Linked DNA regions of Homo sapiens. The protein of the gene in region 2 purifies or fractionates together with the protein of the main gene of each other region. This does not show direct contact. Each region holds a gene or a part of one and is shown on either strand. Other genes may lie near its edges.

Region 1 (3,654 bases), about 83 Mb from region 2:
ACTTCTGTCTTAACTCTTCAACTGAGTATACAAAGATATTACTGATTCACAAAAGGTACAGATACAGAAAGTTTGCTCAATATCACACTTTCAAAGCTTAGCTTAGTCTTGGTGCTTGATTGGTGCCTATTAGTAGTATGATAAAGAGCATTATGAAAACTCATCTCACTATGGTTATAATCCAGGCAATTAAGTTTAAAATGAATATGAACCAATCTGTTTAAAATCTTCTAATTAATTTCTTTTTGAAATGGAGTTTCGCTCTGTCACCCAGGCTGGAGTGCAGTGGTGCAATCTCTGCCCACTGCAACCTCTGCCTCACGGGTTCACGTGATTCTCTCACCTCAGCCTCCCAAGTAGCTGGGACTACAGGCGCCCGCCACCACGCCTGGCTAATTTTTTTTTTTTTGTATTTTTAGTAGAGATGGGGTTTCACCATGTTGTCCAGGCTGGTCTTGAACTCCTAATCTCAAGTGATCCACCTGCCTCAGCCTCCCAAAGTGCTGGGATTACAGGTGTGAGCCACTGCACCCAGCCGTTAATTTCTTTACTAAGGAATTTGGTATAATGAATTATTTATCTAGCAAGTTGTATTAGAAAAGCATTTTTTTAAAGTCTAAATAGTTTTTTCCTTTGAAACATGCAGGATAAATGGTATCAGGGTCTCAGACCAGTTTACAAAAGGACAGAGGATAGGTACTAGGCACAAACAGACACGATTATCCAAGAGTAGCAGGTGAAGGTGTTCAAAACTAGAATTCAAACTCATTCATTCACTTAAGGTATGTAGAACCACTGGAGGTCAAGATTTAAGTCCTGTAGAAAGATAAAGTCCCTGCTGTTGAGTAGCTTAGAGCAGGACTATTTTCCCATGGAACTGATATACTATAGTTACACTACAGGACGGGAGATTTATGGATTAATGTTGCTTCTGTGAAAAATTATATTCACAGTTCTAAATAATATTTTGGAAGACTGACACTTGCCGATATACTATCCGAAGATTTCAGACTGACACTTATTTTTCATCTGTTGACAGTCTGAATTAGACCTTTAACATCTGAGTTGTTTATCACAGGTCTCAGACTAATAGTATTAATAGTTCTTGTGAAGTCCAGTTGGATTTTGTGATTCCTTAGTCAGTGCCTTTTTTAAACAGACTTACTGCTTATGTAGTTGTCGACAAAATGACAGTAAGTGAAAAATTCCCATCAGTGCATCATTCTGAGATTCAAAGTAAGATTCAATGAGACCATTTATTCTAGCATACATCACGAGAGATTTTGAAACATTCTGTTTATTCATAACAATGGGAGGGAATATTTTCAACAGCAAGTTTGGGCTTATAAAGGCACACAAATTACATAGAGAATAAAAGAAAAGCACAAAACACAATAAACGAAAATACTGCTGCATGAAAAATAAAAATAAGAATGTAATAAAATGGCAGGTCTTACAGCATAAATTATGGTTTCTCATAAATCATGTATTGTCATTATGATTAATTATTTCACATAGGCTATATGGTAAAGTGTTTCAAGAGATACAGCCAAAATAATCAAGTTCATGATTAAAACTTATTTTGAAATCACTATTTATCTTTGGTGCAGACTTTTCCCAAAGAAAGCTAATGAGAGTGGTTAGTGCATATCTCTAGAATCGGGTAATTTATCATGTAATACACAATTAAGCAAGTAGAAGTATGAGCTACAACCTAGTTATTTTATAGCTCATCCTTAATACTTATGAAACAATGTTACATGCTTATTTATATACCAACATTTCTAGGACAATCTTCTCTACCTCATGTGTCTTATCTTTCCCAACCAGACTGAAAAATGTATCATGGATTCCTTAAAGACCGAGACTCCCATTACTGAATCTAACACAGACAGTAAGTATCCCTGGAGGAAGTCATCTTTTTGGCCATAAGGCCTATCAGTCTGATATGGAGTAGGGGACTAAAAAATGTTGGTTAAAATGAACTAAAATGAATCATTTCAAATAAGTAGTATCGTTTTAAATAAGTATGCAAAATGAAACACAATACTGCACACACAGCAGGACTCCAACAAATATCTAAAGTACTAATTGTCTACAGTCCCCTCACTTGCACCCCTAGTGGTATACAGGAATAAAGTTACCTTTAATTCATCAAACAGTCCCTGTTTCCCACTCAACTCAGGGTACAGGTGTCAGAACACATGATCCATTTCACTGCAAAGTGGTAAATAATGGTTTCTATTTTACATGAGTGTTTACAATTCTCATGAAGGTATGGGAACAACAGCCAGTTCTTCAAGGGTTTATTTTGATCGTGACATTGACAATTCATTTAATACTGCATACAATAGTAGTATAATTAATGCTTCCCTTTGCAAATAATGTGCTTATTGCATTAGCAAAGGGGAAGAGCTAACCTCAATATTTTTAAACAATTGTTTTATAGATAAATACATACTAGAGTTCTATACGGATTTTTTTTCTCCACAAAGGAAGAGAACAGGGTCTAGGAGAAACTTTCATCACTGAATTTTTAAATTACTTTTTATAGAAGAGCACAAATCCAAGTAAAAAATTCTCCTCATGAAATCTGCCACAATTTCTGAACACTGGTAGATTGTCTATATGTAAAAATTAGACTTGAATGAAAAGTCCCTCTATTCTATGAGATATGGATTGACGAGTTCCCTATGAACCTAAAGTATTCATACAAAATGTTTTCAGAGGAGCAACTCTGTCAGTTGTTTAACTTCTCTGAGGACAAATCAAACCATCTGAGCAAGTAAGAAGTGGATCTTTCTCACTGTAACAAGACTAGTCCCTTCTAACCACCATGCTAAATCCCCTTTCTTGTTTCTATCCAACTTCTGAAAAATGTAGTCTCAATCAGAGGTGAAGCCTCCAATGTGCACAGGGGACTGGTTGTAGACAAGTAAGTCCCAGAAGTCAGGGCTGTGACAAACTGCAGATGTGCAGCTCCATAAAGGCTCACTGCTCAGCTCCTGCCCCGAGGGGCCCCAGGGATCCTCACTCCTGGAGCACTTCACCACTACCGCACAAGACACGGAGCCACTGACTCAGCCACAGAGGGGTCACAGGTTTGTCTGGCTGCGACACATATTTTCAGGAGCTGAGAATTTCAAGTATACAACTTCAATTTTCCCTCCTTATCCCAGAGGGTAAATTGTCATAAATCCTTGGGAAGACAGCATATTCTTGCTGAGGAAAAAATGTAATGGCTTGATGTTCTAAGAGTTGCGAAATGTAAGTACTAGAGGGACTCTAGAGAGCATCTAGACCAACTCCCTCATTTTATAGACAAGAAAACTAAAGCCCACGAGAGTTACATGATGTGCTCATGGGACACACACCTGCATAGTGGCAAAGCCAGGACTAGAACTAGAGCCTCTTGATATCTATTTAACCACTGTCTGTTGATTTATATCATGTATATTCCAAACCCCCTTCCTCTTTTCTAGCCTTTCTTGATTTGGGAGTCTCCTGCTGATTTCAAATATCCTTTTTTTTTTTTTTTTCAACTGTGATCACTTTCAGACAGAAAAGCCAGCTTAAAGAGTTAATTTACAAGCTGCATTTGGGCAAATGGTGTTAAATGATGAACACTTTCTAACGCTTTATTCATGTACTGAC
Region 2 (3,654 bases):
CCTCTTTGTCGTTTCCTCCTCTTCTTTCTCTTCATTCTCTTTCATTCTGTCTCCTCCTTCTCTTTTCTCTCCCCTCCATCCTCTCTCCCCTACTGCCCTCCCTCTCCTTCTTCTTCTCCTTTTACCAGGAAGTCTTTCCCATATTCCCAAGGGAGTTCTTTGCTCTAACTCTGCTCCCTCTGCATGGCATTGATTGCATTGGGTTATATGCTGTTCGTGACCTTGTTAATCTCCAAAGACTGAGACACAATGGCAAAGGCAATGTCTTACTGCCTCAGAATATGGCACACAGTAAGTGCTCAATAGTGGTTTGATGGACGGATGGATGAGGAAAGAGATCATTCCCTTCACTGCCATCTAATTTTATTTCCTCTTACCATTCTCTGCTGATATTGTCTCTTTGATCCCTGGCTTGTCATTCTCTAGCCTCACTTCTCAAGTTTCTTGTCGGGCATTCCAACTAATCGTTATATTTTCATGTCAAATTCAACATAGAGTATTCTCATATTTTTCTGGGCAACTCCTCAATTCATTCCCTGATTCACCTGTGAATTCACTTCGGTTGAATCAGTCTGTCATTGACCTGAGGCACTTTGCAACATTTGACTTCCATGCTTCTGTCATACAGCTTCTTCTACCTGAAAGGTCATTTCTTTTTTTTTTAATCAACTTCTCTAAAAATCTTATCTAATCTTCAAGGCCTAACTCAGTTGCCCTATCTTGAGGTCTTCCTTGATCATTCATCACTGCTGGGCAGGATGTCCCTCCTCTTGTCTCCTATGGAATATATCTGTACAACCCATATGAAACATTTTACTTAATACCTTATATTTTAGTTACCTCTAAATCAGTCTTATTTGCCTTCATATATAGCCCTTTGAGGGAATAAACAAGGCTGTGAGTTAGGAAACCTCACCTTACCTTGATGGCATCAACACTTGATAGACTGAATATCTTTATCTAAGTTTGATGGTGTTTCTGTCTCATGATCCTCACTCTAATTCAGCAACAATAATAGTAACAGTGTCTTGTGCTTGTGCTATGTGCTTTTATTTTGAGAATTATTCTTTATTTGCCTCCAATTCAAACTATGATTTCTTCCAGTTTTTTAAAAAAGTAACACCCTTGACCATTCAGGACACTGCAGGCTCCCAGGAGTAGGGAGAGAGTGTGGCAAGTGTAACGGAGCAGCTCCAGAGAGGAGGTGGGCATTGGACCTCTTGAAGAAAGGCCCTGAAATCTAAATGACCCATCTGAGAATTAACAAACTCCATTTTGATCCACATCAATGCTGACATTGGAAAAGACAGGGCCAGTTGTGGCCAATGAGCTTCTAGTGAATGGCCATTCACAGCATCACAGCAGTGCATGGTAATGGGTTTCCAGGGCCATCCGAATTAGTGCAAAGGATCCTGGAATTTAATTCCCCCTCCAGGTGGGGTGAGGGAAGACTGCTCTGAGATAAACAATGAGATTGCAGTTCAACCAACAAGGTAAAGTTCAAGGATAGAGTGCAGGTCTAATAGAGACCTGGAAAGCAGGATATTTAAATTGGTAGCTGAGTATGGCTGGGACAGAGTGTGTAGACACGAGTTCAGTGGACAAAGTTTTTGTGATTTATTCATGTTTTTGTTCTAGGTTCCTCTTTTACATTATCAGCTCTCTCAGAGAGCTCAATTCCTCTTTTGCCTTCAACCATTACTCTCTCTGGGCAACTATATTTTTTGGTCTCAGAGAGACCATTTTATTTGGAGTCTGAGTGAGCAACTGCTACCTTTCATTTTGCTGAAATTATGCTTGCCCCTACCAGGTAGAGAAACAGTGATACCAGGCCAGTGCTTGTCTGGACCTCGCTGTTGCTCCTGTTGCTATGTGCATGGTTTCAAATCAGGTTATCTGTTGCCCATTCCCCAGCTCCCTGCAGGGCTTGGAGATTGCCTCCCTTCCTCTACTCCCTTCTTAGGTTCTGCTCCACAGTACTTGCCAGAGCATCATAATAGAACCAGTAATTGTCACCAACTCCTGAAAATGGGGGTTAGGGGAACGGGGCTGTTGAGGGGGGAGTCATCACCTCTCTGTGTCCCCCATCTTCAAATTTCATGAAACATCATACATACCTTTTAGTTTTATAGTTGTAAAGAATTTTTAAATTCTAAGTCAGAGAAATTATAGAGTTTCAATAGCTAAAATCCCTGGTATTTGTTGGAGTTTAGATAGAGGTAAACCTGATCTTATTTAGCTACATTTGTCTCTGAAACATTTTTAAATTCTAGGTAACTGCTGCCTTCAAAAAATAAAACTCTTTCTAATGGAGATATTTCTTCCCTCCCCTCCTCTCCTATCCCCTTCCCACCTCCCACTTTTCTTCCCTCTTCCCTCCTTCTCCTACCTTCCCTTCCTTTCCCCCCATCCCTTTTTTTCCTTCCCTGACCCCACCCCACCTTTCCTGTAGAAAGACTACAGGAAACATTTAAATTAGTACTGCAATCTGCAACTGAAGTTTTTCTCCGCATATATCTTGATTCTAATAGGAAATTTGACAAAGTTTACCAAGATAGTTTGACTCAACAATTCCTTTAAAAATCCTTTAAAATGAGAAGATATAGCTTTTTAAAAATTCATTTTATTTGATGTAGTAATTCTACTTATTGGGATCTATCTTAAGAAAATAATCAAGAAGGCAAAACAAAATTATCATATATAAATATTCCTTAGATTATTAATTATAATAGCAAAAATCTAGAAATCACCTAAATACACAACAGTAGAGAAATGACTACGTAAATAATAATAGCATATTCACATAATAGAATAGTATGAAGCCATTAAGATTATGTTTCTGAAAACTTTTGAATAACACAGGAAGGTGTTATTAAAGTCTTTCATTAATACCAATGGAAAAATATAGGCTACAAAATTATATAGAATCTAACCTCAATTATGTAGTATAATAGTCATAAAAGAGAAATTCAAAGGTTAGCAGGTGTTGCTTCTTGTCGGTTAGGTAAGGGGGATTGGATTTTTGTGCTCTTCATATTTCCCAAGTCTTCTGCAGTGAACAGGTTTAATTTTACAATCAGGAAAGCCACATTGCTGTTATTTTTAAAGACTTGATTCAAAGGTTGTCTGTTAAAAATTCAAGGAATATACAAACAGCTGATTTAATATTTCCTCTAAGTCTGCATTTCCATGCTGGAGAAAAGGGAGATAACTTACAGGGAGAGGACTTAAAGCCCCCTTTCTTTCCAATACATTCTTGGGAGAGAATGGATGACCACACATGCAGGAAATATATTCATTGGAAGGCCTGAGGGGGTGAGTTTATAGTGTGCTCACCAGGCTGAGCAAGAAAAAATAGAAGGAGCACTTGGCAGACATGGAGACAGAGACCTGAAGTCTCATCCCTAATTCTACCTTGAACTCTAATCTTAGGAATGCCATTGGTAACCTCCCTGGGCTGTATCTGCATGTTGGAAACATGGTGACATTCCCTGTCGCTGTCATTTCCTAAAGCTCTGGCATCCGAGACCTTTTGGTCTCACTGAGCAGGTATCACAGAGGGTCGGGGCTCTGCGGTGGTTTACCTAGAGAAAAACAACAACGGAGCTGAAATCTGGCTCCCTGCCCAATCCACTGTGCGGACTCTGACTCTCA

What was found.
Region 1: the proteins of TACR1 (region 2) and PKP4 purify together in Homo sapiens (affinity purification with mass spectrometry; 2 studies listed by BioGRID and IntAct, with this or other methods). This does not show direct contact.

The regions. Positions count from the first base shown.
Region 1 is NC_000002.12:158,463,298-158,466,951, reverse strand, and holds part of PKP4 (plakophilin-4), read right to left. Parts: intron 1-3,654. UniProt on the Homo sapiens protein: Plays a role as a regulator of Rho activity during cytokinesis. May play a role in junctional plaques.
Region 2 is NC_000002.12:75,193,001-75,196,654, forward strand, and holds part of TACR1 (substance-P receptor), read right to left. Parts: intron 1-3,654. UniProt on the Homo sapiens protein: This is a receptor for the tachykinin neuropeptide substance P. It is probably associated with G proteins that activate a phosphatidylinositol-calcium second messenger system.